Regions from separate parts of the Homo sapiens genome. Here regions 1 and 2 are each reported to be linked to region 3. Evidence: microRNA targets listed by miRTarBase, many of them from high-throughput screens and not tested one by one. Region 3 holds a microRNA gene; each other region holds the end of a gene's coding sequence. Distances are between the middles of the regions.
What was found. Region 3 holds the annotated microRNA hsa-miR-513c-3p (UAAAUUUCACCUUUCUGAGAAGA, at 4,206-4,228, opposite strand). A microRNA usually pairs through its seed, bases 2 to 8, with sites in the 3' UTR of a target mRNA and lowers its output. Matches are read on the target gene's strand: a 7mer-m8 pairs with bases 2 to 8, a 7mer-A1 pairs with bases 2 to 7 and ends in A, and an 8mer does both.

Region 1 (11,225 bases), 130 Mb from region 3:
TTCAGACTCTCTCTACTCCATCTTGATGTCCCCCTGCCTCCCCAACCACTCCCTAGATTCCAGTGTTATCCTTTAGGAGCAGAGATAGAATTGGGGGTATAATTGGCAGGGATATTTGGTCAGACAGGTTATTTTGATGATACCATCCTGATCTCCACTCCCTTTGAGAACCATGGCACTGTTAAGTTGTGACTTGACCTTCTTCATTGACATCGTATAAACCCCAGAAGCCTGAGCCACTGTAGGTAATAAGTTAACAGGGAAAGAACTGTGGTGACGGTTTGTCAGCATATAGTAAAGGGGCTAATTGGGATTTTTTTGGTAACCACATTTTTCTTTTGGTTAAAGTAATAGTACAGCATCTGTATTTTTTTTAATTCTATGGTGATTTATAATACACTTTTAGAAAAAAGTAAATCCTTGCCTATAATGGATTGTCATCGCTAACATTCTCTTCATAATAGTAAATTGTTATTTTATCACTTAAAACTATAAGTAGATTAATTGACCTGAAATAAAGCTGGACAAAAAAGTCAGTTTGTAGTTACTCTTTTAACCCTATGACATTTTAATTCATTTCAACTCCTCCTTCTTAGTTTAACTGTGCTATTTAGGAAATCGATCATGAAATTAATTTGGAGTTCATGCTGTAAACATACTTCTTCAATTGCAATTCACCAGTCTCAGCATAATTCTCAACATAATTCTGATTAAAATGTTTGTATTCAGAATGTCCTCAGGGTAAAAGAGCTCGATGAAAACATGCCGTACCTTTCAAGGGCTGTTGACCTGTACAACATGCACTGCATGTTATAACTTCCTTGAGTTCAAAAGGAGACGGTTTAAAGGTCTAATATATGAGACTAAGCACAAGTAATACTCAAATTACAAAATATGAATGTTGGCCCATTTGATGTGTTCTGAACAAGTATGTTTAAAGATCTTCGTTTTTTGATATTTTAGAGCTTAGTACTTAGCAGTGTTTTAAAAAGCAAGCCACCTACTTGCTCAGCAAAAAACGTTATTTCATTTGCCAGCATTTGACCTATACTATCTACTGAAATTTCCCCCATCTCTTTATCTTCTTTTATTTGAAATCCATGAAATGCTTCTGCATGTCCTCACCATCCATGCTCAGCAACATGTACAGCCTCATGTGGCTGTTGAAAGAGGAGGCTCTGTGTTCCCAGAAGTATGCTAGATTGTAGCTCTCTGCTTGTGGTTGATGTCTGCCAGATGCCGGTGAGAGCATCTCAGCTTAGTCAAGGAATCTTCAAAGGCAAATCCTGCTTCAGTACTGCTGAAGTCACTGCTGAATTAAATATTGACCCTACAGTGGTGACCCCAAAAGCTGTTCAGACTTTGCGGGACTTTGGAATTCTAGTAGTTGGCTAAAATTGATGGTGACTCCCTAGGGGAGAGGAACTGTGGCTTATTCTTTGTATCACACAGCCTCTAGCCCGGTGTCTTGCCCAGAATAAGTACCCAATAAGTTTTGAATCAAATGGCAATAATTATCGTGATTAAGTTCATTAAGGATATCATTACTATGACAACAACAACAAAACACAAGCAACTTTTGTTTGTATTTGTTTATAAAATGTTCCTGCAGGATCGGGTCATTGTTTATCATGGGACAGGTGATGGGGTGATGGGTGAAAGTGCTCACACTTGGCTTCTCTCCCTCCAGGTATATGACCGGGTATCAGTGGAAGCTGTGTTGCCAATGGACAAACGACTGGACAGACTTATTTCTCACTGCGGCCCAGTAACAGGCTACATCTTTGCTTTGTTGGCAGTTTTCAACTTCCTCTTCCTCATTTTCTTGAGATGGATGACTCCAGATTCTATCATTGATGTTGCAATAGATGCCACTGGGCCACGGGGTGCCTGGACTAATAACTATTCTCACAGTAAAAGAGGGGGTGAGAATAATGAGATATCTGAAACCAGGTAGAAGGAAGCCTAGATTGTAAGATTTTAAACATTTGTAATAGTTCTATAAAGACTATGGAAAATAACCTTGCTTTTGGGGGGTTTTTGTTTTTTTAGAGTTAATTTAGTAAGTTATGCTACCTCTATATCATTCAATATTTTCTGTTGAGGAAAGATAAAAATGTATGCAATTCCTGAGTGTAGAAACTTCTTGCACTTATTTAAAATTTAGGAGAGAACATTTAAGCCACTCAGGTATGCAATTTTTCAGACTACTGAAATCCCTGTAGCAGAGATGTTTTAACATTATATTTTGAGAGCTTTGGGTGCTGAAGGGCCAAACGTTTTCTGGGCATTTTTTGGCCAGTTTTTAATGTAACACCATTAGACACTCACCAGATGTTTACAAGTTTTCTTTAGGGGAACTACAACAATTATATGAACTGTTTTATATCATGTTCATATACATTTATTAGGAATCTAAATCATGTCTTTGAACATTTATTAGGTTCACTCAGTAGGTGTTACATGTAATTAACAGGTTCCTTGAGTAAGATAGTCCATCAGTTACCAGCACATTTTGAACCCCTGCTCTGTGTAGAATGTTGAACTAGATGCTTCCCGCCATTAAGGACCAGGGGTGCATTCACTCTTTGTTTACCATTCAAATGGCTTACTTCATCATAATTGTGGTTGATATGAGATCAATATCCAACATGCCAAAAATGCTCATGCCAGTTAATGCCAGGAAAAAAATCACCGACACACTACTAGTACTTTGTTCCTGTTGTATGCATTCTCCTAGGTAGAGCCTCCATCTTCAGTTGTGTTTGTGAAGGTATTTTTTGCTTTTTAAATACTGGGGACCGATATCACTGTTGATAGTGCAGAGAAACCCTCCACATTTTTCAGTGCATAATTGAGTTTTCTATAAATGCCTTCGTGTTTTCTGAGCAGAATGTACGAGGTGTGCCATCCCAAAACCAGCTGCTACCCTGTCCTTTTAATGTAAGTCACTCCCCTTCACTGTGGCCTCGCTGATGTCTGATAAGTATTGTCAGTGTGCAAAAGGCTTTACTTCAGAATGGTTTATTTATAGCAAACTAAGTTGAAAATTTTAGAAACAGTCTTTGTGGGTGGATGTTATTAACTGTCATTGTTGTTGCCCAGAGCCATGGGTTTTTTAACCCCAAATTATCCACATGGTGTGTATTATGAATTCTTTGAACTCTTAAGGTTTTTGTGAGAAAAGGACTGTGAATTCAAAACAATAAGGCACTTGTGGGTGCACTACATAGATTCTGACAGTGTTGTGATTCTGTATAGGATTTTTAAAAATGACAACATTCACAAAATTTATTACTTTTTAAAAAATAACATGCCTATTAACTGGTTGCACTGATATAAAAGAAATATATTTGTGTTTTGTTTGTACTAAAATGCAAAAGCAAGAGTGCAATTTTTAAAATCTAGAAGTTAGGGGTTTTGTTGGAGAAAAATGGACTGATCTTTAAACTATTCAGTCTTACTGGGATTTTTATGCATAGAAACTCACATATAAACATGAAATAAACAGTGCCAGTATTCATAGGAAAGTGAGAAACTGTAATATTTGGCCATTATTCTATTCAACAGGTTTTAGAGGCATGCCACCATTTTTTCCTTATATTTTTGCTTAATTTTTTTAAATTGTCATTTAATTCTTAAACTGTCATTTATTTGAGATGGAAATAAGATCTAAAGTTAGTTGCCTTTGCCTGTAAAACATGTGATTTGCAAATTATTATTTTTCTTTTTTTTAACAAATGGAAGTAAATTTGTTTCACGTAAATCTTAATTTTCAACCTTTCTGGATACCTTAATTGTAACTGTCAGTTTGCACTGGTCGGTATATGGAAACACATTGCTCTACCCTGCTACTTAGTTGATTTTAAAGTGAATTTACAGTGATGAGAAATTTGTGAAAAATATATTGTATTTCTTTTGATGTTTCAAAAGGTTGCCTATGAAAAACTGATTTGTTAAAACATGCTACATGTCCAAAAATAAAGACCAGAATGACATTTTGATAATTTTCTGAGTTTGTCTTATTTTATGAACAGACTATTATTTACTAGTGGAACAGGCTATCCCTGCCCCCGACACATTCTTTTTCAGTGCAATTTGGATGTGTTGCTTGGTCTATTAGTAAAACAAGAAATACCCTTTGGGCGATGAATTACTCTGTCATTTTTTGTTTCTAGAATATCTTCTCTCTCTCACTCATGGAATAGCGAGTTCAATTGTGCCTTTGTTTCCTTACCCAAATAAGCCCTTGTTTTTCATTGCCCTAGCATTATCACGTGAGACAAGGAAAATATCTACAAACTATACTGTGTATGTGAGCTACATAATTATGCTTTCTACTTTGCCCAACACAAATTTGTAAACTTTCTTAAAACATTATGAGACTTGTGATTTTCTTTCTTTCTTTCTTTCTTTTTTTTTTAGCTCATCAGCTATTAGGGTATTTTCATTTATTTATTTATATATTTTTGAGACGGAGTTTCGCTCTTGTTGCCCAGGCTGGAGTGCAGTGGCACGATCTTGGCTCACTGCAACCTCCGCCTCCCGGGTTCAAATGATTCTCCCGCCTCAACCTCCTGAGTAGCTGGGATTACGGGCGCCCACCACCACACTGGCTAACTTTAGTATTTTTTAGTAGAGATGGGGTTTCACCATTTTGGCCGGGCTGATCTCGAACTCCTGATCTCATGATCTGCTGTTAGTGTATTTTATGTGTGGCCCAAGACAAATCTTCCAGCGTGGCCCAGGGAAGCCAAAAGATTGGACATCCCTGATTTAGTTTCTCCCACTCCTTTTGTGGGAAGCAGTGGAAAGCAGTCACCTATGTTTATGTTTTGATTTATCTTATGCCAAAACTTATTTTTGGCAAAGTCAGGGTAGTATAGGTCTGTGTTTACTTTTGTGAAGTAATTTTAAAGCCTCTTTATCCATCTCTGCATTCCCAAATGGATGTGGCTAGATGTTGAATTGTATCATCCTGTGGCTGGATTTTTTAATATAAAATTATGAAAAAGTTCTATGTAGAATTTGATTTGTAGCCTTTAGTACTTGGGGGAACTGATTTTTATCCTTTATCATTTCTATTTGGGTATGGCTCAGTGGTTCTCAACTAGGGCTTGGGGGGACAGTTTTGTTTCCCAGGGGACATCTGGCAATGTCTGGTTGTTACTACTAGGTGGGGTGGGGCATTGGCATCAAGTGAGTAGAGGTCAGGGTTGCTGCTAAGCATTCCGCGATGCTCTGGGCCATCCCCCACAACACATGTATCTGTCCCAAAATGTCAATAGTGCTGAGGCTGAGAAACCTTGGTGCTGTTGATGATTTCATCTGTGAAAGATAGCATGAATCAACTGTCCTTATGTATCAGTAGCCTTTTATGCCCATCACAAATGTAATGTTCAAATATAGTAAAGATGGTCTTGCCGGGCATGGTGGCTCACGCCTGTAATCCCAGCACTTTGGGAGGCCGAGGTGGGCGGATCACGAGGTCAGGATATCGAGACCATCCCGGCTAACACGGTGAAACCCCGTGTCTACTAAAAATACAAAAAATTAGCTGGGCGTGGTGGCGAGCACCTGTAGTCCCAGCTACTTGGGAGGCTGAGGCAGGAGAATGGCGTGAACCCGGGAGGCGGAGCTTGCAGTGAGCCGAGATTGCGCCACTGCACTCCAGCCTAGGAGTCAGAGTGAGACTCCGTCTCAAAAAAAAAAAAAAAAAAAAAAGATGGCCTCTCAGAAATAGTATAGACACCCATTTGAACCTTAATAAAGTTGAGCTTTTCATGGCCAACTTTTTTGGCGTGTAAAACATAGGACAGCCATGTTTTAAATGAAAAGACCAAAACAAGATTGAATAATGTTATAGAACAATGTACATCACTGGTCTGACATGACTAAATGATTGCCTACTTAGAGTATAATTGAAGAAAGATAAATGAAAAGGACTAAAAGAGTTGTATTCATGTATTTTCATACACTGGCATTCTACCAGGTAATATAAGCTCAGTAAAGTAAATCTTATGTTAATGTCTGTTCCTTGAGAGTTAAGACGACTCAAGGTCTTTATAGTGCTCTGATACACTGAAATCGATGAGCTGTATGTTGTGACTCAAGATTGTATTCTTACATGTCAGCTTTTTAATGTAGTGAAACAGTTCTTAACCAGGCAGTCATTCTAATTTGCCTGCATGCTAGGAGAAATTCCCATATTTTTGCATAAATCATTTGTTAAGATTTATTAGGCCACTTGTATAACTATATTTTGGCTTGTCTTTTCAATTGATTTTTAAAATTTACAAAATCGAACATAGCCAAGAATGAAGGCAGAGACCTAGAGTGATGAGGAAAACTAAAAATAAACCCATTTCACTTGTGTTGGCCAGCTGATAAGAGAAAATTGCCCAACTAGAGAAGGTTGATTCATGAAATATTTGGGTACTTCATCCAGAACCTAGGGCATCTCTTTTGTCCATTTCACTATGACTCTTCCATGATCAAGGATAGCCCACATTTTTCAGAAATGGGCACCACCTTTACCAATGCTTGAAATGCAAGTGAATGATCAGGAGGGAACCTTGCCATGGGACCTTGTCCCAGATGGAACTACCATGGCGAGTAGTCTGATGCTTCTAGTGTGACACTTACTTGGAGAGGCATCCAAGATAGGCCTTTTATTAAATACAGGCTTGGCCGGGTGCAGTGGCTCACACCTGTAATCCTAGCACTTTGGGAGGCCAAAGTGGGTGGATCACCTGAGGTCAGGGGTTCGAGACCAGCCTGGCCAACATGGCGAAACCTCGTCTCTACTAAAAATACGAAAATTATCCAGGCGTGGTGACGCATGCCTGTAATCCCAGCTTCTTGGGAGGCTGAGGCAGGAGAATCGCTTGAACCCAGGAGGCAGAGGTTGCAGTGAGCCGCGATCGCACCATTGCACTCCAGCCTGGGCAACAGAGTAAGACTCCATCTTAAAACTAAATACATACATACGTGCATACATGCATACATACATACATACAGCTTTAGGGTAAATTGTCTTTTTTTTTTTTTTTTTTGAGACAGAATCTTGCTCTTGTCACCCAGGCTGGAGTGCAGTGGCGCGATCTCGGCTCACTGCAACCTCCGCCTCCCAGGTTCAAGCAATTCTCCTGCCTCAGCCTCCTGAGTAGCTGGGATTACAGGCACCTGCCACCACGCCCAGCTAATTTTTGTACTTTTAGTAGAGACGGGGGTTTCGCCATGTTGGCCAGGCTGGTCGCAAACTCCTGACCTCAGGTGATCCGCCTGCTTCAGCCTCCCAAAGTGCTGGGATTACAGGAGTCAACCACCGCGCCCGGCCAGGTAAATGGTCTTTTTTAACTGGTCATATTTTAGATTTGGATTTAATCCTCTATAAACTTCAGAATTAAGAGAAAATGAAATGCTCCAGGGAGTAGTATTTCCCACTTAGAACATACAGCATATTTGCACTTCTTTTGTATGTCAAATAACTTGCTTTGTTTCTGTGGAAGCCAAGAAGTTTCTATCTTTCCAACCCTGCTTTCTAACATAAAATAGGAAAAATAGGGGTTTAGGAATATAAAATGTTTGGATATGAATCTTATCTGTTAGATAGTACTGAGTTATGTAGTTCTAGAACTATTGGATGTTTCTGGTTAGAAGGAAGTTTCTTTAGTTTATTTAACACTGCTGTGGAGTCAGCACATGCAGTCGCCAAATCAGTTAGATTAGAACCTACAGAGATCTCGGTAACAGGAGCACTGAGTGCTAGAAGGTTTAAAATAGATGTCATATGATACCAATTATAACTCAGTGAAATTTTACAGTCCTAGGACCCTATACAGAGCATAAGCCAAAATGGAAGATGGTCCTGTTTTCTATGGCTTTAAAAACATTTTTATTACAATGTTTGCTACGTTTTTTTTCTTTAAGCTTTTAATTAAAGTTTTTTTGGCTCTCCTAACCCATTTCTATATCGTCAAAGGAAATAGAAAAGAAGCGGCTAGGATAGCAGAAGAGATCTATGGTGGAATTTCAGGTAAAAGTACATGAATTTGTTCCTAATATTTAAAGAAAATCCCTCCTAGATAATTCATATGACTAGTATTTCTGGAAGGCAGATTATATTTATACTTTGATTTTAAGTGGGTAGTTTGAAAAATTGTCACTTAAAGTAGCAAATGCTGTTGGCTGCATCAATTTGTGGAGGATTTTCAGCTTTATTTTTTGCAAGTTCGTAGATCTTGTAGCAGTTGTTATTTAAGAAGTAAATAGGTAGTGGCTTACTAAGAGTATTTTGAGAAACTTCATTTCTACTAGCCAAAGTAATTACTTGTATATAATTATTTTCTTTAATATTTTAAAGCAAACTTTAACAATGAAGGGCATTCTAACCAGACTAAATTCTCTCAGGAAATAGAATGACTAATAAATTATAATTAAAGCAGCAAACGTGGCAAGCTATGTGTATTTTTTTTGCTGTCATTTGCAACTGGAATTGATTAACCACTTGTCACTGTCAGGAAAAGCTCTTCACTAAACCCATTTTATATGGTAGCATGCAAAGCACTCCAAACAAAGTTTATTCTAACATGAAATGCCAAGATTTGGGCAAAACATTTTAAATTCTCATGCTTTGTAGAGAATAGTGTCCATTTCTTTCAAGAAATGATTTACTTTAATTGTGGTGAGATGCTACAAAAGTAAATGAGTCAGATATCCCTGTCACTCCTGGGATTGTCACTTAATAGAGGAGTATTTATTCATAAACAGAGTTCAGAATTTCCCCGTGTATTTTTAGTGTTTGCAGGGGTTCCAGGATTACATCATTCTTTATCTAGTATCCATTTCAATTTGCATCCAGGATTCTCTTTCAAAATAGTCTTATGTGATTCCAATACACTAGACAACTCAGAAGACACTAGACAACAGCAGTCTTATCTAAAGAAATAAGACCTCCAAGGACGAAGCATCAGAATGCTTCAATTAACTGGGGAAAATGAGAAGAATTGTGAAGTTTCAGAACGTATCAGAAGGTCCGGACCATGGAAAGAGATTTCTTTTGGGGATTATATTTGTCACACATTTCAGGGAGGTATGTTACTTTGACTAGTTACAAAAAAAAAAAAAAAAAGTAATGCTTCTGATAAGTTTCAAGTTAAGCATGATCTGAAAAGTTATCTTCTAATTTAATTTGTCAATTTGGGCAAGGGCTTTCTAAAATTTTCAATAATAGTTTTGGTGTTCTCATAGATAAATCATTCTTCTGGTCTAAATTAGATGAAGTCCAACAAAGTCAATATTGGCAAGAACATGTTACAAATGTTTTCTCCTGTTGCACCTGCGCATTATTTCTGTCTTTGTGGTCTTTAATTAAGTGCACTCTTTTTTTTTTTTTTTTTTTTTGAGATGGAGTCTCGCTCTGTAGCCTAGGCTGGAGTGCAGTGGCACCATCTCGGCTCACTGCAACCTCCGCCTCCCAGGTCCCGGTTGAAGCAATTCTCCTGTCTTAGCCTCCTGAGTAGCTGGGATTACAGGCACACGCCACCATGCCCAGCTAATTTTTTTGTATTTTTAGTAGAGACAGGGTTTCACCATGTTGGCCAGGCTGGTCTTGAACTCCTGACCTCATGATCCGCCCGCCTCGGCCTCGCAAAGTGCTGGGATTACAGGCGTGAGCCACCGCGCCCGGCCTCAAGTGCACTCTTAAAAAAGGTATAAAACCTCCTTATAGTCAAAACCCATGTAAGCATGGTTTGAATTTAATCTGGAGCTGGAATACAAATCTCTTAAATACAGTTCGTTCATTCTGTAGTGCAAATATCTTTACTTGTTCAATCTCTTAAAATAGGTTAATTTGCAAGTAGCATAGTATTCTAAGGTCAAAAACATTTTTCAATTATTGTTAAAGAGGCAGGGAATGGTGCATGTTAATTTCCCAGTTTTATTTCTTTCATATATATATGTATATGTGTGTGTGTGTGTGTATACATATACACGAATCCCCCCACCCCCAAATTTACCAAGATTTGGTAAATAAGACTTTCTGTTTTTTTGTTTGTTTTGAGATGGATTCTTGCTCTGTCACCCAGGCTGGAGTTCAGTGGCACGATCTTAGCTCAGTGCAACCTCCTCCTCTGGGGTTCAAGCAATTCTCGTGCCTCAGCCTCCTGAGTAGCTGGGATTATAGGCGCACGCCACCACGCCCGGCTAATTTTTGTATTTTTAGTAGAGATGGGGTTTCGCTATGTTGGCCAGGCTGGTCTCGAACTCCTGACCTCAAGTGATCTGCCCACCTTGGCCTCCCAAAGTGCTGGGATTATAGGTGTGAGCACCTGTGCCTGGCCGCTAAATAAGTCTTTCTATAAGAATGTAGGCAGTAACATGCCTGGACCAGTATTTTTCACATGGTTCTGTGTTTTTCTTTTGATACCACTGTTAACAGTCAGATACTATATTATTACAAATCTTCCCCCGCCCCACAAAATACTTAAAAAATAACAACTCTTTATTCAAAACCCAGTCCTTTAAATATTAATGCAACTAGGCCAATACACCTAAACAATAAATCCTCCTCAACCCCTCAGTCTCTCTAATTCCTAAATTATCCCATAACAATATATTTAGGTGTATTAAAAATCAAGAACAAAATTTTGTGGAAGTGTTAAACTCAAACCAGAAATCAAACTCAAACCAGAAATCACCTTTGCTTTTGGTCACTTTTGCACTGGTCAGACAAATGTTTGTTGGGAAAATATATGACATTTAATCAGTAAATTAGCTAATTGACTTACAAAAGTCCCAGCCCAAGGTTAAGTTTCTTGAGTCTGCTAGCATATGCTATTCCTGTAAACTATTGTCAGCAATGTCAAAAGCAAGGAAGGGCAGGAAAAACCTAGCCAGCACACAGGTTAGACTTTTGTAGGTCCAGAGCACTCTTTTTTTTTTTTTTTTTTGGAAGCTGCATTTAACACCACATGCCTCATTAAATATCATTCTTTGTGCTGTAAAACCTTTTGGAAAGTTGTTTTTTTTTTTTTTTTTTTGTGCAGTGGGCGGGTGGGGGTGGATTTCATAGTCTGGAATACATTATTTTATATGTCTTTGTGGCTTAAACTATTACATTTGCTGATCACTCATCATAGTTGAATTAAGCCATGGTTGACTGTTATTAGTTTTGGTTTTTAAGCTTCTTTGTTTATTTTGTCTATTATATGTATATTTTT
Region 2 (11,225 bases), not on the chromosome of region 3:
AAAAAACTTTGTACTTTCAATGCACAGACTTTCAATTCATGCATTTCTAGATTAGTAAATCATTTTCTGCTTTGAAAGTTATTTGTTTTACCTCTGGACTTTCATAAAAAGAAAATGAGCCAAGAAATTAAAAAGTGAAAGGAAAGAGAAATTTGCTGTGTATTTCCATTAAGTAATGTAAGCCATTTTAGTTTTTAAGCATTCCTGTGAGATAACAAAATCAGCTTGTGTCAGACTTGAGAGGGAAACTGCACACAGGGCTGTCTTGCTAGTACATGGATAAAAATGTAGTGCTCAAGAGAAGGAAATGCAGCCTTGCCAAGGGAAAAACGATGACTCATGATTCAGACAGTTGCTTACAAAAACCTTTGGAGAAAATATTCTCCGTAGAGTCTGGCAAAGGAGCAAATGGGAATTTCCTGCTATTCTCTTTAGAAAAAGGAAGAGAGAGAGAGTTCCCTTCTGCATGGGGATGGAAGGAGACCAACTGCTTGAGTGAGGACAGCAGTCCTTTCTGCAAAAGATCCCCACAGGCCACTGGACGTTAGTGCACCCACTTGGAGCAAAACCAGGAGTTGTGCTGTGCATGAGCTGCCGGGCAGTAGAGCTTCTTGTTCCTTCTCTAAATTGCAATATTTGTGCTATGTAGTTGGGTAAAAATAGCATTTTGGGTGGTAGTAGATGATTACAGGTAGTTAAGAGTATAGTCCCTGGTTCCAAATATGTCTCTGTTCTTTACCTACTGTGGATTTGGTCAAGTTACTTAACCTTACTGAGCCTCAGTTTTCTTATGTATAAAAAGGAGAGAACAATACTTACCTCATAGATGTTCTCTGGATGATTAAATAAGATGGTCTGTCTATCTATCTATCTATCTATCTATCTATCTATCTATCTATCTATCCATCCATCCATCCATCTCTCTAACTATCATCTATCGAGCTAGCTAGCTAGCTAGCTAGTTCATCCTCAGCAGATCCCTTGCAGAAAGTAAGTCCTTAAGAAATGTAGCTGTTATTGTTGTGTTTGCATTGTACTATCATTGCAAATATTTCCATTATGAAGACACAAGTTAAAAATAGTTGCCTTGATGATTTCTCATGAAATTAAATATGGAATTACTGCATGATTCAGCAATTTTATATCTGGGTATATAGCCCAAGAAGTAAAAGCTGGGACATGAATAGATATTTGTATACCCATATTCATAGCAGCATTATTCACAATAGCCAAAAAAAGGAAGCACACTAAGTATGCATCAATGGACCAATGAATAAACTAAATGTGGTACACACACACAAACACACACAGCCTTAAAACAGAAAGAAATTCAGAAACATGCAACAACATAGATGAAACCTGAAGACATTATATTATACTAAGAAGAATAAGCCAGTCACGAAAGGACAAAGTTTATATAATTAGTCATATGAGGTACCAAGAGTAGTCAAATTCATAGAGACAGAAAGTAGAATGGTGGTTACCAGGGGCTTGGAGAAGGACAAATGAAGAGTTGGTGTTTAATGGCTTCAGAGTTGCAAATGAAAAAGATGAAAGAGTTCTGGAGATGAATAGTGGTGATGGTTGCACGACAATATGAATGTACTTAATGTTACAGAACTTAAAATGTAACTTAAAAAAGGTTTAAATGCTACATTTTATGTATATTTTGCCACAATATGAAAATGGGAAAAATCATTTCCTTAAGCACTGGAATTTGTAATATGTAACTTGTATTGCACTTGGTGCAGATATGCAATGTGTGAAGTGCTCTTGGCTTTTCCCCCCATAGTTTTAGCACGCAGGGATCGTGATCCACTTCTTGGACTATCATTTAAAATATGGAGTATTGCAAATGTGCCATAAGTAAAAACTTTTAACAATCTAACCTCTAACTGACAATGAACTTAGACTGTAAGATAATTTTTTATTTCTAAGAGCCTGTTGATTTAATCTCATCTTGGAGTCTTATAAAAGAGATCTTAAGACATCAAACAATGTATGTTGAGTTTAACAAGGGAACACAACAAGATGCTTTGGCTCCATTTTATTTATTTTTCAGTAAATTTATACTTTTTTATTTTTCGAGAGGTTTCAGTGAAGTACAATGACATGTAATAAACTGTACATATTTAAAGTGGACACTGTGATAAGTTTTAACATGTATATACACCCCTGAAACCATCAACACAGTCAAGATAGTGAAAATGTCCTTGCGCTCTCAAAAGTTTCTTTGTGTTGCTTTGTAATCTCTCCCTCCATCTCACTCCTCAGTACTACTGCCCCCACCCCCAGGTAACCACTAATCTGCTTTCTGTCATTATAGATTAATTTTCCTTTCTAGAGTTTTATAGAAATAGGCCAATACAAAATTTATTCCTTTTTGGTCTCTTTTCTTTTCTTTTTTTTTTTGAGATGGAGTCTCGCCCTGTCACCCAGGCTGGAGTGCATTGGTACAATCTCCGCTCACTACAACCTCCGCCTCCTGGGTTCAAGTGACTCTCCCGCCTTGGCCTCCCGAATAGCTCGGATTACAGGCAATCGCTATCCTGCCCTCTAATTTTTGTATTTTTACAGAGATGGGGTTTCACCATGTTGTCCAGGCTGGTCTTGAACTCCTGACCTCAGGGGATCTGCCTGCCTCAGCCTTCCAAAGTGCTGGGATTATAGGCATAGCCACTGTGCCTGGCCCTTTTGTATTCAGCATAATTTTTTTGGAGATTCATCCATGTTATTGTGTGTATCAATGATTCATTCCTTTTTATTGTTGAATAATATTCCATTGTATGGATATACTACAATTTCTTTAATCATCCATTTGTGATGGACAAACAAAGCTCCCACAAACATTCATATACAAGTCTGTGTATATGAATGTTTATACACAGAAAAGAATCCTTTCTTTTCTCTTGGATAAGTACTAGGGAGTCGACTGGTTGGATCATGTGGTAGGTATATGATTACCTTTTTTAAAAACTGCAAAAATGGTTTTCCAAAGTCATTGGACCACTTTTTGAAAGTTCTAGTTGCTCCACATCTTTGCCAATCCTTGATATGGTGAGTCCTTTTAACTTCAGCCATTCTAATAAGTATGTAGCAGTGTCTTATTGTTGTTTAATTTGCATTACATTAAAGGTTAACGTTATTGGTCCTTTCCTGTCTTGTTTGCCATCTCTGTACCTTCTTTCCTGAAATATGTGTTGAAATCTTCTGTTTGTCTTTTAGTGGGTTATTTGCTTTCTTATCACTGAATCTTGAGAATTCTTTACATATCAATACAACTTCTTTATCAGAGAGGTGACTTGCAAATATATTCTCTCAGTCTGTGACCTGTCTTTTAATCCTCTTAAGAGAGTCCTTTGAAGTGGGCTCCATTTTTTTAAAAATTCGTAGGCTAATTGTTGGGGGATATAATTTGAATAATGCGTTATAGGTTTTCTAGGAACACCCTCTACATGAATGTCAAAACAGAATAATAACTGAAACATAATTGTCTGATTTGGTGATAACTATGATGTGAACATGTTTTTGGAGTACTCTCCATCAGGTCAATTAACGAGTTAAATGGTTAAATGGATCCTACTAAATTAGGAGAGTATAATTTTGTGCTGGCACTACTAGTCCAATTTTTGAGTTTGTCTTAAACTATCCTAGTAAATTTTAGGCAATTAAACTAATGTTTAAAAAGCAACAATTAATGTTGAGAACAAAAGGACTCATAAAACAGTTCATTTTTTAGGCTCAGCAAGCACCAGTGCAATGTGTTTAGAGAAAATGTCTGCAGTCAACAAGGTATGGCTCTGGGTGACATTCATCTTCTGACTCTATTACCAGATGCTGGCTCTCTCTGTGTTTCCCACAGCCAAACCCGTCAAGAAGAAATCCATGTTGATGAGGGCCCCCACAGTCTGTGCTTGGCAGACCTCTCATGCATCAGAAATAGAGCTTGGCCAAGAGGGCTGGTGAACTTTGCTCAGAAAGGACAGAAGCTATGGCAGGTCCCCATGATGGAAAGGGCTCCCCTGGGACCAAATCATTTCACATTCATTATCTGACCTACACCACCAACAATCCTTGAGAAAGATTTTACCATGTTAATATACTAATTTGCTATTTGCATGTCTTCTTTGATGAAGCATCTGTTCCAATATATTATCCATTTTTATTATTTTATTTATTATGTATTTTATTGTTTTATTAGTGGTTTTGTTATTATTGAGTTTTCAGAGATTTTAAAAAGTATATTCTGGAGATGAGTCTTCTATCAGATATGTGATTTGCAAATACTTTCTCCCAGTCTGTGGCATGTTCTTTTCATTTTCTTAAGAGTATTTTATGAATAAGTTCCTGATCAGATGTTATCTGAATACTTGAACGTGTTTAATGCCACCTAAAATGCCTAAATAACACCTTTGTTGACTGCAAAAAAGACTATACAAATGTGTGCTGATATTGCCCTGCATCTGCATGTTCATATATTTAAGCAAAATTCATATATTTGTATGTAACCCAGATGTTCACCAGTGCCTTCTTACTGTTCAAGAGCTAGATAAGACAGTTCCATCTCCTAATCCAGCTTTGTGGATTCCTAAGGTGTGATATGGGAAGGGGGAAGGTGGCTGTGTTGTCATTGTTTTGCCTCCTGTTTCTTCTAATTTGGTTCATCTATGAAGATCTGGCCACCCCATGTTTGTTCAAACATGAGACCGGGCACTTTCTATGATTTGTACACAGAGGTTTTACGCAGAGGACTTTTTGTGGTAGCCATTTTTATTGAAGTTTTGGAGATGATGTCGGACAGAGTTTCAATACATCAGCGCACACAATTTCATGCTGCACATGAGCTACGCTGTTTGGAAAATTCTTTTTTCATTCCCACCAGCAAAATTTTCATTGTCTGACTTGTTCCACGTAGTGTCACAGTTCCAGAGCTTTGGGGGATTTCTGTCTGTCTCCTTTCTCCTTAAAAGCTGACACACAAAACATGCTATTGATATTTTACTGTCTTTTCCGTTGCCACACCCATAACCTCAAAATCTCACTAGATATTGAGTGAAGCCTCATTAGATATTTTTCTACAGACTCATTAGATATTTTTCTAAACAAAGAGTGTTTTCCTTAAGACCTTATTCTGGTGCCAGCCAAAGTAATATTATTATTTTACTTTATTCCTCATGCCTAGTCATCGGTTCAGCACATGCAAATGTGCACCTTTGGGCTAGTTGCCTTCATTTTTATTGGAATTAATTTTAATTGTTACTTATCTTCTACTGGTTATGGACTTATTTTTGGCATTCTGGATGGGTTGACATGCTAAGCTGTGATACAGTATTTCTAATTCTGCAGAAGTGGCCTCTCTCCTGTCATTCTTGCCCCAACACGGAGGTAGAGCAGGTCTTTTCAAGAACTTGCCAGTTTCTGGGCCAGTTTAGCAGTTCAGCTCAGAGAAAGCAGTGGACAATAGGGGCCCATTGCTGAGAGAGATTTCTTTAGTTTCCTCTTGGCTGCTCTAGACACTGCCTGGACTCCGCATTGCTACTTGCTGATCTTGTCCTTGACTCCAGGAAAAAGAGGAGTTCGGCTACAGAAGGGCTTTTGGCAGAGCAGGGGTGGAGAGCTGGGGGAAGGATGAAGCTTGAGGGGGGCTTGACTGGTTTGAGTCAATGGCAGCAGGCCCCCCATGATGACATTTCTTGTTTGCATAGCCCGTGTGTGTGTTATCCACTTTGAACTGGAAGGGGGAGCCCTGAGTTCATTGTCTACACAATAGTAGCTTCTCTGGAACTCTTAATGAACAGATTACTTCTCCTGAAAGCTGCTTCTTTTAAAAGGAATTCAGATTTCTTTACTGCTCTAGGAAAAAATGCCTAGATACAAATAAAGACTTTTATGATGCTTCTCTTTGAACTTCTTTTTAAAATCTCCATTCACTAGAGACTGAATGAAATCATTATGTGACCATGGGCAGTTACTAAATTTCTTTGAGATTTAGTTTCCTCTCCTGTAAAATGGCAATAATGTACTTGTGCCTACCTGAGGGGTGCTTGTGGAGAAGATTAAATCCGATTATCTATGTGGGATCTCAGCACAGTGCCTATTTCATTAGAATTTCTCAGTAAACAGCAACTGCTAATGGCAGTAATAGCCACTATAACCCAAGTTCCCGAGTTTTGGTACAAAGACAAAAACCTAACCAGTCAGTCCATGCTGACCAGGTGCCCAAAGAGCTCCTAGAAAAGCTTGATTTTTTTCCCGGTGTAAGCCCTGGGAAAAATTAATGCCCTCTCTATCCCACCTAAACTTCCCTTTCTCCTATGTTTCCTGGCTTTTTGCTTGGTTTGAAACTGGACTTAAACTGCTGCACCTCTTTCATTTGGCTTTAGGAACTATGTGGCGTCCGCAATGCAGAGCAACAGAAAACTGGACAGGACATTCCTGGAATTCTGTATGAACAAGGCAGTGGGGACTGGAAGCAGGCTTAGTTTTTTGAAAAACTAGGGAGAAAACTAACCAGATGGCTAGGGTATAAAAAGGTTCTTCTTCCTCTGATGCCTGTGCCATGCCAGCAGACAGGGACCCACAGCTCCCCTAAGATACCCACACATCTTGGCTGTCCCATGATGAGCAGAATAAAGAGATTGCTGCTTAATAGTGTCATGGAAGTAAATGGGACTTCTCACCCTTAAGCTTGCAGGGATGGTGGGGGGCACATAATTATTTAAAAATCTTTCGAGGAGCAAAGTATCCCCCAAATAACGTGGGAAGGTTAGGGAGAACACAAAAGCTGACATATTCCTCTGGCTATTCCTGATGGCCAGCTCAATTCTAACTTTATGATGAGAGAATCTGGAGCACACAGTAGGAGGAATGGGAACCCCAGGTTTAGTTCCAGACCCTCCAGCTTTCCTTTTCTCTTTTAATCCCACAGCAGTTCATGCCATATTTATTCCCCCATAAGGTTCAGGTCCCCTTATTGTCTCTTACCTTATATATTCCACATGGCTTTCTTGAATTTTAAATTCCTTAAAGGCAGGGGCCAGAAAGTATACTACTTTGCAGGTATATTTTAAAAAGAACAACTAATAGGTACTTGGCAATTTTATAATATGGATGGTTATATAAATCAAATCGAAATTAAAACTGCCATGTTGACTTTTGCACCAAAAATAATTTATTTTCCAAAATAAAATTTAAATAAATAAAAATAACTCATAATTTAATAAAAATTTCAAAATCTTCTAGTGTCCTTTCATATGCAGTACATTAGCCATCAGTCACTTAAACAGCATCTGCTGGTTGAAGAATGCTTGAAGCAATTGTCCAGTCCCAGAGGCACAGGCTAGGAGATCTTCAGTTTCGGAGGTAACCTGTAAGTCTGTTAATGAAGTAAAAGTTCCTTAGGATTTCCACTCTGACTATGGTCCAGGCACAGTGACTGTACTCCTTGGCCTTCAGGTAATGCAGAATCCTCCCATAATATCTTTTCAGGTGCAGACTGCTCATGAGTTTTCCCCTGGTGAAATCTTCTTTCTCCAGTTTTTCTTCCAGGACTGTCTTCAGATGGTTTATCTGATGATAGACATTAGCCAGGAGGTTCTCAACAATAGTCTCATTCCAGCCAGTGCTAGATGAATCTTGTCTGAAAATAGCAAAGATGTTCTGGAGCATCTCATAGATGGTCAATGCGGCGTCCTCCTTCTGGAACTGCTGCAGCTGCTTAATCTCCTCAGGGATGTCAAAGTTCATCCTGTCCTTGAGGCAGTATTCAAGCCTCCCATTCAATTGCCACAGGAGCTTCTGACACTGAAAATTGCTGCTTCTTTGTAGGAATCCAAGCAAGTTGTAGCTCATGGAAAGAGCTGTAGTGGAGAAGCACAACAGGAGAGCAATTTGGAGGAGACACTTGTTGGTCATGTTGACAACACGAACAGTGTCGCCTACTACCTGTTGTGCCAGAGCAAAGGCTTCGAAAGGTTGCAGTTAGAATGTCCTTTCTCCATGGGTATGGCCTATTTATATGAGATGGTCCTCTCTCTATTCAGAGGAATTTCCCACTTTCACTTCTCCCTTTCAGTTTTCCTATGTCATTTACATTTTAGTAGTTTCTAAAACTCTTTATTTAAGCTCCTATCTTATGATATATATAATAGGGAAAAAGATTTACAAACTGTGAGGTTTTCTAATGTTTTTTAAAGTTTCAGTGAATGACTAAAGCAAATTGTAAAACAAGACTTGGGAGAAAGCAAAGGAAAGCAAACGACCTGAGAATTCAAGAACCTCAAAACACTAAAAGATACAGTTGGTCCTTCCTATCCATAGGTTCTGTATCCGTGGATTCTACTGACTGTAGATGGAAAATATTTTTTAAAAATACAATAAAAATAATAATACAACAACAAAAAATAATGTAAATTTTAAAGATACAGTGTTACAGCTATTTAGCATTTATATTGTATCAGGTATTATAAGTAATCTAGGGATGATTTAAAATATACAGAAATACATGTGCAGATTATATGCAAATACTGCAACGTTTTATAAGAGGGAATTGAGCATCCTCTGATTTTGGTATCTGTGGAGGCAGCGGGATGGTGGTCCTAGAACCAATCTTCTTTGGATACTGAAAGACTGAGAGATAGATTTACTGAAAAGTCAATCAGGGAATAGTAGCTGAAACTGCAAGGAGTTTTGCCCAATATGATAATAGATTAGTGTGAGAGGGCCTTGGAAACTTCTGAAAGGCACTGGAATAGTCTAGGGTATAAGAAATTTTCAAACCAACCAGTCACAGCCCTTTTGATCCTACACAGAGGAGAAACTGCCACAAGTGGAATCACACTTCAGCAGGATATAAACAACACAGACAAGGATAGAGAAGGCCCAACCAGGGTGGGATGGAGAACTCAGAAGGCAGGCTGCTATGTTTTTGACCATTTCACAAAAGCTAACAGAAGAGGGAGCTCTGTGAAGTTAGAAAAACCGCCCTGAACCACTTCCTGGTTCAGGAAAAATAAGCTCTTACAAGACCAAACAACAGAAAAGTATTAAGATGGAATCTCATACAAAGTTATTAATAGAAAAAAGAGAAGGCTTTGGGAAGATGGCTGATTAGAAGCAGTTGTGGTCTGTGGCACTCTGCTCTTTGGCCAGGATGGTCTGACTGCCCTGAGCCTGTCATGCTGTGAGAAAGCCCAAACTAGCTTACAAGGAGAGACCATGAAAATTGGCAGTGTATTTCAAAATTTAAAATTTCAAGCAATGAGATTGTTCCTTTAACTTGCAATACCGTTACTAGTTATTTACTATGGCTATCCCTGCAGAAATATGCATGTGTATGTGCATGTGTATTATAGATACATACAAAACATATATAAATGTTGATTATATTACTATCATAGTAACAAAGACAAATGTCCATCAGCAGGGAGCTTGTCAAGTAATACTATCACGTGGACAAGATGGAATATTATTCAGCCATCAAAAAGGACAATCAGCTGATATAGACACATATCACAGATACATTTAGTGAAAAGAGCAATACACATAAGAAAGGATATGATATTATCATTTGTTTTGTAAGTTACTAGAAAGGTATACATATGATGCTGTTATATGCATATGATTTTTTCCTTTGGGTAGAATTACTATCTATTAATAGTAGTTACCCTGGGGAATAATGCTGATGGGGTGAGGATGCAGCAAGGAAGAAAAATCTTTATCTTTTCACTTCATACCTTTAGAACTATCTGCATATGAGTTTTTCCTTGTAATGAGAAGAGGTCTGGGAAATAGGGTTATTAGGCCACTAGGGAATTAGGTTGTTACATTTGTAATTTCGTGCACTTGGAGAAAATTTAATAAATATTACTAAATTTTAACATTTATTTTGTTTTATTTGCATTTAAAATGTTCTATTATGAGCATATATTATTTTTGTCATTAGGAAATTTGAAAGACACCAGTTAATATTGAAAAATAGAACATAAAATTGTACATACAACATGATTATGCAAAAATATGTAGAGAAAATTAATAAAAGGAAGTAAACCACCATTTTAATAGTGGCTTGATTTGGCTTGTGAAACTAAAGAGTGATTTTTTTCCTCCTTTTATTCTTTGTATTTTCCAATTTTCCACCAGTAAACAAGTATTGTTTCATAATAGACTAATTTACATTATAAAATAAACGAGTCCCAACCTTTCTGGTTATTCTGCCTCTCTATGGGTTTCATTCTCTCTGGCCTTTTGGCCTTTGCAGGCCAGCTCTTAGCAAGACCTTGGCCATCTCATGCATTTTAAAAACAATGAGTTTCAGAATATTAAAAAAAACTCGGCTCTTCCACTCAAAAATGTCTGTTATGTCAGTATTTGAGTAATTCCTTGGGGTTTTGACGAGCATTCTCGGATTAGTCTGGAATCATCCATGGCTCATAGCACAAAAGCCAATGCAAGGAGCTTCAGAGGTTAGTCAACCTAGAGATGGCTGTCCCTCTCAGGAAAGAGGAGACAGTCTATAGAGTCTGGTCACTGGGGCCTGCTCCTATAGAATGACTTGCAGGCTTGTATATAGTTGACCTTTCCAGGTGCAACAGAAGGCCTCATCACTGCCCACATCAAATGGTCTCTTATCCTCCATCCGGAAATGGTCCTTAGAGAGTTCATAATCTAATACAATAAAAACAACAGTAGTGGCGGTAGTACTAGTTATCATTTATTAAGCACTTGCTATTTGCCATTCTTTGAATAATCCTCATAGTAAACATTTGAGATGGGTTATTATCATCCCCATCTTACAGAGGAGAGAAATGAGGCTTAGAGAGGCTGTGTAATGTGTGAAAGATACACACTGCTAATAACATGGGTAGATTGCACTTAAAACTGTGATCTTTCCTGTAGAATATCAAGCAGTCTATGGCTGACATCTTCAGATAGGTTCATGGTGTCAACCATGATGGTGATGATGGCTCTCAAAGAAAAAAGAAACTACATCTAGTGGAGAAGATGAAAAGGCATTCATTGCCCTTAATGCAGGCAGTGTGCCTAAAGAAGTGGTATGATCACTACAGGTAGAGGTGGCTGTGGTGAGGTGATGTGGTTGAGGGCATTCAATCGGTACTGTCCAATAAAGTCACATAATGCAATTTAAAAAGCTCTAGTAGCCATATTGAAAGAGGAAAAGAAACAGGTGAAGTTAATTTTAATAATATGTTTTATTTAGCATAGTA
Region 3 (11,225 bases):
CTTGAGCTCCCCACGCTGAGAACAATTCCAGAATGAAAGACCAGCTGGAGGGAGAGGCCCAGCCATGCTAGCTGTTCCTGCCATTCCAGTTGGAACTGCATCCTTGTGAGGGGGCATTCTAGACCACCCCAGAGTAGATGTCTGTAGTTGCATGTTTGAGCCCAGGTGAGCCTAAGCAGAAGAAACTCCCAGTGAACTCACTGAATCATAGAAAACTGTAATCACTGTTTTCTGGCACTGTGGTTCAGGATGGAATGCAGCCATAGGTTGAGTATCAGGTTTGATCCTCTTTAGTCTTGCGTGTAAGTATCCTTTCGTGTTACAGTATAACCCTAGGATCAGACTACGGACTTGGTTCACAGCATTAAACAACTTATTTAACTTCTCTAAGCTGCATTCTTTATCTGTAAGTTCATGATAAAAATAACTACTGCCTTCTGAGGGTTTTGAGTGGATTAAATGTGATAATACATGTATGTTCTTAATGAAAAAAATTATGGAACAAAATCTAAGAAAAAGAAAATACTATTTAAAATGGAATATTTTAGTAAATCTGAAAGTAGAAAACACTTAGAAAACATTTAAAATATTTAAAATGCTAAAAAAGTCAGAAATCAATCAGAAAAATATTGTATGATAGAATGAAACAGCACATAAAACCATGTTTCACAATTATTAGGCTAATGTTTTTATAAAACATTCATGATGCATTATTTGAAATCATTTATAAGAAAATGGCACAAAATTGTTGACCCCATCCTAAAACCTAAGTATAAATACAGATAAATGTGTGGAAAGATCCACATCTAAATTTTATCAAACACTGTATCCACATTATGATGTTACTGGAATTATTTCATTACTGCTATTCATGTTTTTCACACCTTGTATGTGCTTTCCACATTGTTCTGTAATAAATAGGAATTATCCTCATGGTCTGAAAAAGAAATACATCAATAAAAATGTAGTTTTCTTTGGCAGAATTCTGATATAAGAATAACTCGGACAGGTGTAAAAGTTGTTTTTGGCAGTTATTTTTCCTCTTTTGAGCTTCCTGAATCTATACATACTCAGCCTGTTCAGTTAGAGTTCTTGCCTTTCCATGTTCCTGACTCCTAAGCTGAACACATTTTAATTTATTATATATTATGAGGATAAACTAATATATTCACATTAACGAGGTGACGAAATTATAGTATAGCAAGGAAGGTCCAGAATGAATACGTAAACATTAAACCAGGGTTTTTCATGTGCTAGGACTACAACACAGATCAAAACAGCTTCAACACATGCTAACAGAACTGACATTTTAAAACACAGATAATTTTTACAAAGTAACTAGTAAAATACTTAGTATACACAGGAGTGCTAAATTATATGTAGTTATTTATGCTGGATATATGTTATATGTAATTCAATAATGTGATAAATATTTTTATTCTGTAATTTGCCTTTTTATTATCTCAGTGGTCTTATTTGAAGACGTCTTAATTTTTTCAAAGTCTATTTTATCAATTTATTTTTAATAAATTTTATTTTTATATTTTGATATCATATGTAATAATTTAATGGTCAAAAATATTTTCTCTCATTTTTTTCATGCAATTTGATAGTTTGACGTTTTGGCTTAAGATTGTGTTAATTTCTGTATGTGGTTTGAAATACGATCAAGGTTCATATTTTTTATATATCTCACATTTCCCAGCATCTTACTGTTTAAATACTATCATTTCTTCATTAGATTGACTTTACAGCTTAGTCAAAATGAATTGGTGACATATATGGATATTTCTGGTCCTTCTATTTGTCCATCCTTTCTTCAGTACCACAGTACATTGGGTAATCTAATTAGACAGTAAATCTGGAAATTACAAGTGTAAATTTTCCAGCTTTGTGATTCTCTTTCAGATTGTTTTGGATATTCTAGTTTATTCGCCTTTTATATCAGTTTTAGAATCATCTTGCTAATGTCTACAAATATTTTTCTGGGACATTGGTTGGAATTGTATTACTTCTAGAGATTAATGGAAGTCTAAAAGTCTATAGATTTGAATCCTTCAATCCATAAATATGATAGTCCTCGCCACTTAATTAGTATTTTTTTTTAGTATATTTACAGTTTTAGCATACAGATGTTTTGGGGTTTCTATTGATACTGTAATAAATTGCCACAGATTTAGTTGTTTACAACAACACAAATTTATTATATTAGAGTCTAAAGGTCAAAAATCTAAATTAGGTTTCTCTTGGCTAAAATGAAGGCATTGGCAGGGCTTTGTTCCTTCTGTTGGCTCTAGAGGAGAATCTACTTGATTGTCTTTAGAAGATTCTAGTTACTTTCTCCATTCTTTGGCTCATGGCCTTTACCTCTACCTCTAGTCAATACTATAGTATTTTGCAATGTTTCTCATTCTAACCACCTTTCTCCAACGTATAAGGGCCCTTGTGATAATGTTGGGCTCACCTAGATAATCTAGGATAATCCCAATCTCAAAATATTTAATAACATCTACAAATTTTCTTCTACAATAAAATATGATGCTTACGAGTTCAGGGGTTACATTGTGAACATTGTTTGGGCGGGGGCTGTTACTCTGCCTACCACAGAGATCTTGTAATTTTTTCTTAGAGTTTCAAATAAATATTTTATGTTCATATTTTATTTTTCAATTAGCTTGATTTAATCATTGCATAATGTACACATATATCAAAACGTCATGTTGTACACCTTAAATATGATTTTTATGTCAGTTAAACCTTAATAAATTGGAAGAAAAAAGGCTGAGTAATACAAAACAGTATTTCACTGAAAAAAAACACAAATACCAGTAAATATACTATTCTTTTGAGAAATCATAACAGAGGTATGATAACAACTAAATTCTCTTTTATTTCATTTTAAGATATCACTTAAAGTTATATAAGTAAACATGCATCACTATAATACAGTTTTAGAAATTATATACTAAAAACAGTTATCACTTTGGAAAATTCTATGTACATACAGTATTGCAAAGTGACAAAATTTTTTTACTGTTCAGAATGTTGCCCCCACCCCAAAAAGATTGTATGTATTCTATTATTACAATGTTTTTCATTATGGAAAAGATACTTCAACTGTTTTTTTTACTTTCAGACATTAATGGTCTTATACATATTCATACATTCTGAATCTAAAAAAACATAAACCAAAATCCTGCCTGTAACCATATAGTAATTGTTTTTTATAGTTTTTCCCTTTCGGTGTTTATGCTGTAGCCTCTGTTTCAGTTGGAATCAAAATTGTATTAATCACTTACTATTTATAACATTTTTTACACATTTCCACAATATAAATAGCTTATTTATAACCTACTTCCCAAACATGTATACTAGATTAATGCTGCAGATGGCCTTACATAGTCTGGTGCTTGTCTTTCTCTTGCATGTTCTCTCTCTCTCTCTCTCCTCTCTCTCTCTCTCTCTCTCTCTCTGTGTGTGTGTGTGTGTGTGTGTGTGTGTGTGTGTGTGTGTGTTTATTTCCCTCTATTTCTCTCCATTAGGTTAAGAGTTAAGCGTCACCAAAAGAAAATGGGGAGAGAAGCCTAGGAGATATCTCTTGAGTATCAATTCTGTCATACCCTTCCATTCTTCAAATATACTCTTAAAAAATGGGGAAAAAAGATAATTAAAAAGGGTGAAATATTCTTGGGTGGACTATGCTTAACCCTTCATAAATTGGTGACTGAAGGCTTTGAAAGGTATTTTAACAGTCAATGAGAAAATGTTTTAGTCTTTGACAGAAAATGGACACTGTGGATCAGCAATGAAGGGACCTGAGAGGCAGGAGAGCCTTTTGGGAGCACTAAAGGACAATCCTTGCAAATGATGACTAGTTGATCAGTGAAAAGAGTTTAGAGAATTGAGGAATCTGGAGTAAAATGTCTCAGCTGACGAAGAATGGCTGTGGCCTCTATACAACGTATTTCTTATTTGAGCCAAGCCTCATTTGGCAAAAGTAGATAAATTCTTAAGGAACCAAAGTGCATGCGTTTTCTCAGGAGTCCACAGTTCTTATGTGTAGTCGTCTAGAAGGCACAAAAAGTTCCTTGAAGTAGCCCAGCACTGAGGAGTGGGTGCACAGGATGCAAAACAGGCATCACCATGCTCGCAGCTACAGCCCCATCCCTAGGGACACCACATATGCAGTGCATGCTGTACATTACTCTTCTCAGAAAGGTGAAATTTATATTTTAGTTCACATAAACGACACCTCCTTGAGAAAGGCACTGTACGCTGAATGGCTGAATGTGGCATCCCAGACCAAATGTTCCCTATTCATGCCGTTTTTATTCAAGTCCCTATAGGTGTATGCCTTCGCATGGCCACCAAGATTTATGCCAAGTAACAATGCAACTTCTAGCCCCTAGCACTCCCCTTTTCACCCTGCCCTGAGTGAGATATTAACATGCAGATTTTTGTTTTGTTTTGAGACGGAATCTGGCCCAGACTGGCATGCATTGGCGTGATCTTGGCTCACTGCAACCTCCGCCTCCCGGGTTCAGGTGATTCTGCCTCAGCCTCCTGAGTAGCTGGGATTAAAGCTGTGCACCACCATGAACAGCTAATTAACACGCCGATTTTTAGGCTGAGCAATGATAGAGCTTTTCACTTCTCCTCTTTTTCAGAGGTGAGTTATCCTTGTCTGAATTATCCCATTGGTTTTCCTGTAATTTTGCTTGTCTCATTAAAAATCCTCAAAGTCTTTGCTATTGTGAATAATGCCGCAATAAACATACGTGTGCATGTGTCTTTATAGCAGCATGATTTATAGTCATTTGGGTTATATACCCAGTAATGGGATGGCTGGGTCAAATGGTATTTCTAGTTCTAGATCCCTGAGGAATCGCCACACTGACTTCCACAATGGTTGAAACCAACCCAAATGTCCAACAATGATAGACTGGATTAAGAAAATGTGGCACATATACACCATGGAATACTATGCAGCCATAAAAAATGATGAGTTCATGTCCTTTGTAGGGACATGGATGAAATTGGAAATCATTCTCAGTAAACTATCGCAAGAACAAAAAACCAAACACTGCATATTCTCACTCATAGGTGGGAATTGAACAATGAGATCACATGGACACAGGAAGGGGAATATCACACTCTGGGGACCGTGGTGGGGTGGGGGGAGGGGGGAGGGATAGCATTGGGAGATATACCTAATGCTAGATGACGAGTTAGTGGGTGCAGCGCACCAGCATGGCACATGTATACATATGTAACTAACCTGCACAATGTGCACATGTACCCTAAAACTTAAAGTGTAATAAAAAAAAAAAAATCCTCAAAGTCAGGCTAGGCTCGGTGGCTCACTCCTGTAATCCCAGCAATTTGGGAGGCCAAGGTGGGCAGATCATCTGAGGTTAGGAGTTCGAGACCATCCTGGACAACGTGGGAAAACTCCCATCTCTACTACAAATACAAAAGATTAGCCCGGCGTAGTGGTGGGCGCCGGTAATCCCAGCTACTCTGGAGGCTGAGGCAGAAGAATCACTTGAACCCAAGAGGCAAAGGTTGTAGTGAGCCAAGGTTGCACCTTTGCACTCCAGCCTGGGCAACAAGAGTGAAAATCTGTCTCAAAAAAATCTTCAGACTCAGCCGGGCATGGTGGCTCATGCCTGAATTCCCAGCTCTTAGGGTGGCCCAGGTGGGGAGATCACTTGAAGCCAGAAGTTTGAGACAATCCTGACCAACATGGTCAAACAAACATGGTAAAACACCATCTCTACTAGAAATACAAAAGTAGCCAGGTGTAGTGGCTTGCACCTGTAATCACAGCTACTCTAAGCTGAGGCAGGAGAATCACTTGAACCAGGAAGGCAGAGGTTGCAGTGAGCAGAGATGGTGCCAATGTACTCTAGCCTGGGTTACAGAGCGAGACCCTGTCTCAAAAAAACAAAAACAAAAAACCCTTAAAATTACAGTTAAGTACAAAGGACCAACCACTCACTAAAGCTTTCTGTTGTCCTAAAACTCCAGCTGTGCTGCACAGACCTAAATTCCAACAGAAAAACCACAGAATACAACCACCTGGATGCAGAGAAGTGCAGAAGAGTCAGAGAAAACTAGGTTAGAGAGAGCAGAAATTTAATTTCTTCTTCAGGCTATGCAGGGGGAAGAATCCATAGAAATTAATACGAGAGAGAGACGAGACAGATAATGGGCTGGAAGACAGGAAATGCTATTCTATTTCTCTTAGCTCCATGGTTCTTTATCGTTCATTTATTGGGGTGCTCTCTCTGTGTGTGTGTGTGTGTGGGCGGGGTGGTGTTATTAATAATTAATAAGATTTTTTAGCTTTAATATTTAGTGTTTGCATTAATATATTTTCCATCTTTTTACTTTTACCCAACTTTCACATAGGTCTTCATATTTAAAATGGGTTTGTTTGACATAGTATATTAGTGGTTTCTTATTTTTATGTAATTTGACAATCTCTGTCTTAATAGAAGCATTTATATCATTTATATTAATACAATTATTTATATATGTGCATTTAAATCTACCGGTTTTCTAGTTGTTTTCTATGTTTCATCCTTTTCTAATTCCTATTTTCCTGTTTTTCTGCCTGATGGCAGACTCAGTATTTTTATCATTCAGTTATATTTTCTGCACTCTTATTAGTTGGTCACTTAAAAAAAGATAGTGGTTGCTCTGGAGTTTCCAGTGTCCATATTTAATTCATCACAGTCTATCTTCAAAGAATATGATCCTACTTTTTGTATAGTTTAAAAATCTTATGATGGTATACTTACAATTCACCCCATCCTTTGTAATATATATGTTAATTACTTTCATTAATGTTCTAATTCCCACATACATATTTATTCACACTGTTATCTGTTACTGACTGATTGAAAATAATAAAATAACCCCTGTATGAACCCCAAAAATTTGAGGACAGGTCTCAGTTAATTTAGAAAGTTAATTTTTCCAAGGTTGAAGATGCACACCTGTGATCCAGCCTCAGGAGGTCCTGATGGCATGTGCCCGAGGTGATCAGAGCGCAGTTTGGTTTTATATATTTTAGGGAGTAATGAGACAGCGATAAAAATATGTAAAATGAACGTTGGTTTGGTCTGGTCCAAAAAGGTGGGAAAACTCGAAGTAAAAGTGGGACAACTCAAAGTAGGGAGGAGGCTTCCAGGTCACAAGTAGGTGAGAGACAAACGGTTGCATTCTTCTGACTTACTAACCTTTCCAAAGGAGGTACTCAGATACACATTTATCTCAGTGAGCAGAGGGGTGACTATGAGTAAAATGGGAAGCAGGTTTGTCCTAAGCCGTTCCCAGCTTGAATTTTCCCTTTAACTTAGTGATTTTGGGGCCCGAGATATTTCTGTTTCACATCCATATCGTCATCTTCATCATTTTCTGGGTTTTTAGTTTGTTCGTGTAGATTAGATTCATGTTTCTGCCCGGTATTTCTTTCTGCCTGAGGAAATGTGTTAACATGTCATGTAATGCATTTCTACTGGGGTGAATAATCTAAATTTTCTTTGTCTGAAAAAAATTGTCATTTGTGTTTATTATAGAGATAATGTGAGTCCATCAAAATCAGTATTTATCTCTCAAAATTGTTTGCTTTTTTCTAACTGTAAATTTCTAAGAAATTTACACTTCCTATCTCTGTGCTAAAATTCCTCATTTGCTCATCCATGATGTCTACTTTTTCCAATAGTGATGTGGTTTGGATCTGTGCTCCTGCCTAAACCTCATGTTGAATTATAATCCCTAATGTTGGAGGTGGGGCCTGGTGGGAGTTGTTTGGATCATGGGGGTGAAATTCTCATGAATGGTCTAGCACCATCCCTTTGGTGCTGTTCTCATGATCGTGAGTTCTCACGAGGTCTGGTTGTTAAAACGTGTGTAGCACCTCCCCAGCCTCTCTCTTCCTCCTGTTCTAGCCATGTGAGGTGCTAGCTCCTCCTTTGAATCTGCCATGGTTGAAAGTTTCCTGAGGCCTCCCAGCCATGCTTCCTGTACAGCCTAAAGAAGCATGAGCCAAATAAAGATACCTAAAAATGTGGAAACAGCTTTTGCATTGGGTAACAGGCAGAAGTTGAAACAGTTTGGAGGGCTCGGAGGGAGACAGGAAGATGAAGGAAAAGTTGAAATTTCCTAAAGAATTGTTAAATGGCAGTCATTAAATTGCTGATAGTGATATGGACACTAAAGGCCAGGCTGAGGAGGTCTCAGATGGAAATGAGGAACTTATGGGGAAGTGGAGTAAAGGTCACCTTTGTTATGGATTAGCAAAGAAACTAGTGGAATTGTGCCCCTGCCCTAGGGATCTGTGGAACTTTGAGAGTCATGATTTAGGGTTTCTGGTAGAAGAAATTTCTAAGCAGTATGGCATTCAAGATGGGGCCTGGTTCCTTCTAATAACCTATGCTCATGTGTGTCAACAAAAAAAGATAGAAAACTGGCACTTACTTACTTATATTTAAAAGGAAAGCAGAGTGTAAAGCTTTTGAAAATTTGCAGCCTGGCCAAATGGTAGAAAATAAAAACCCATTTTCTGGGGAGGAATTCAAGCCAGCTGCAGAAATCTCCTGAAGTTACAAGGAGCTGAATGTTAATAGCCAAGACAATGGGGAGGCCTGAAAGGCATTTCAGACACCTCTGCAGTAACCCCTCCTCCCATCACGGTCTGAGAGGTTTGGAGGGGAGAATGCTTTCGTGGGCCACACCCAGGGTCCCACTGCCCTGTGCAATGTCTGGACACTGCTTCCGATAGCCTGGGTGCTCCAGTGTCAGCCTCTGCCCAAAGGGCGCCCAATACAGCTTGAGCCACTGGTTCAGAGTGTGCAAACCATGAGCCTTGGTGGTTTCCACTTGGTGTTAAGCCTGTGGGTGCCCAGAGCAAGAGTTGAGTCTTGGGAGCCTTGGCCTAGATTTCAAAGGATGTATAAAAAAGCATGGATGTCCAGGCAGAAGCCTGCTGCAGGGGTGGAGTCCTCATGGAGAACCTTTACTAGGGCAGTTCAGAGGGGAAATGTGGGGTTGGAGCCCCCATGCAGAGTCCACAATGAAGTACTGCCTAGTGGAGCTGTGAGAAGAGGGCCACCATCCTCCAGACCCCAGAATGGTAGATCCACTGACAGCTTGTAATAGGGCCTGGAAAAAGCGTAGGTACTCAATGCCAGCCCATTGGGGGTTGAACCCTTCAAAGTCACAGGGTTTGAGCTACCCAAGGCTTTGGGAGCACTCCCCTTCTGCCAGTGTGCCCTGGATGTGGGACATGAATTGAAGGAGATTATTTTGGAGCTTTAAGATTTAATGACTTCCTTGCTGGGTTTCAGATTTGCGCAGGACCTGTAGCCCCTTTCTTTTGGCTGTTTTCTCCCAAGTATTTACCCAATGCTTATACCTCCATTGTATCTTAGAAGAAGTTAACTTGTTTTTTATTTTACAGGCCCATAGGCGGAAGGAATTAGCCTTGTCTCAGATGAGACTTTGTACTGTGGACTTTTGAGTTAATGCTTCAGTGAGTTAAGACTTTGGGGGAATGCTGGGATTGTAGTTTGCAAAGTGAGAAGGACATAAGATTTTGGAGAGGGAAGGGCAGTATTATAAGGTTTGGATCTGTGTCCCCACCACAATCTCAGGTTGAACTCTAATCTCCAGTGTTGGAGGTGGGGCCTGGTGGGAGGTGATTGGATCATGGAGGTGGAATTCTGGTGGAAATAAATAGCAAAAAAGCCCACTATTTAAAATGGAATATTGTAGTAAATCTGAGAGAAACTAGACAAGACTTAGAAAACATTTAAAATATTTAAAATGCTATAAAAGCAATTCAGAAATCAATCAGAAAAAAAATTGTATGATAGAATGAAACATGGCATCTAAAATGATTTTTCAAAATTATTTACCTGGTAACTCAATGTTTTTATAAAATATTCATGATGCATTACAAAATTGTGGACCCCAACCTGAAACCTAAGTAAGTGTAAATATAGATAGATGTGTGGAAAGATCTACATCTAAATTTTATCAACAACTGTATCCATATTATATGATGTTACTGGTATTATGGTATTATTTCATTACTGCTATTCAAGTTTTTCATACCTTTTATGTGTTTTCCAAGTTGTTCTGCAATAAACAGGAATTGTGCTCGTGGTCCAAAAAGGAAAGATATCAATAAAAATGTAGTTTTCTTTGACAGAATTCGGATATAAGAATAACTTGGAAAAATGTAGAATTTGTTTTTGGCAGTTACTTTCCCTCTTTCGAGCTCCCTAAATCTATATATACTCAGCCTATTCAGTTAGAGTTCTTGCCTTTCCATGTTCCTGACTCCTAACTCTAATAAATGTTGTTAACGCATTATAAATTATGAGGATAAACTAATATATTCACATTAATGATGTGACAAAATTATAGTATAGCAAGGAAGGTCCAGAATGAATACGTAGCCATTAAACCAGGTTTTTTTCATGTGCTAGGACTACAACACAGATCAAAACAGCCTCATAGAACTGACATTTTATTGAAAAACACAGATACTTTTTAAAAAGTAACTAGTAAAATTCTTGGTATACACAGGAGTGTTAAATTATATGTAGTTATTTATGCTGGATATATGTTATTTATCACATTATTAAATTACATATATTTTTAGTATTCTGTAGATTGCCTTTTTATTATCTCAGTGGTCTGATTTGAAGACAAATTTTAATTTTTTCAAAGTCTATTTTATCAACTTATTTTTAATTTTACTTTTATATTTTGATATCATATATAATAATTGATAGGATGCCTATGGTATATTATCGGGGGAAAAAAGTTACTGAAAGGTAAAGAAGATTAAAAATAAATATCTATATAAATAAAAAAATATATATATATTCTGCCTTTTATTCATAAAATTTTATACTTGGACATTTTGGCCTAAAATTGTGTTATTTTCCGTATATGGTTTGAAATATGGATCGAGGTTCATATTTTTCATATATATATATATATATATCACATTTTCCAGTATCTTGTTTAAATACTATCATTTCTTCATTAGACTGACTTTACAGCTTAGTCTAAATGAATTGGTGACATATATGTATATTTCTGGTCCTTCTATTTGTCCATCCTTTCTTCAGTACCACACTATATTGGCTAATCTAGTTAGACAGTAAATCTGGAAATTACAAGTGTAAATTCTCCAACTTTGT

Region 1: the mRNA of PIGA is a reported target of hsa-miR-513c-3p. Seed matches in the 3' UTR shown: 7mer-A1 at 2,160-2,166, 7mer-A1 at 3,288-3,294 and 7mer-m8 at 3,889-3,895.
Region 2: the mRNA of IFNB1 is a reported target of hsa-miR-513c-3p. Seed matches in the 3' UTR shown: 7mer-m8 at 7,224-7,230.

Annotation. Positions count from the first base shown.
Region 1 is chrX:15,312,238-15,323,462 of GRCh38, reverse strand. PIGA (phosphatidylinositol glycan anchor biosynthesis class A) reads left to right here. Exons shown (of 6, transcript NM_002641.4): 6 at 1,691-4,007. The coding sequence ends at 1,957. ASB11 (ankyrin repeat and SOCS box containing 11) reads left to right here and starts at 7,823. Exons shown (of 7, transcript NM_080873.3): 1 at 7,823-8,038. The coding sequence starts at 7,858.
Region 2 is chr9:21,069,956-21,081,180 of GRCh38, forward strand. It overlaps IFNB1 (interferon beta 1), which reads right to left and starts at 7,987. Exons shown (of 1, transcript NM_002176.4): 1 at 7,149-7,987. The coding sequence starts at 7,914. The coding sequence ends at 7,351.
Region 3 is chrX:147,185,512-147,196,736 of GRCh38, forward strand. It overlaps MIR513C (microRNA 513c), which reads right to left and starts at 4,276; the gene lies at 4,193-4,276. All of the region lies in intron 1 of LOC105373347 (periphilin-1), which reads left to right.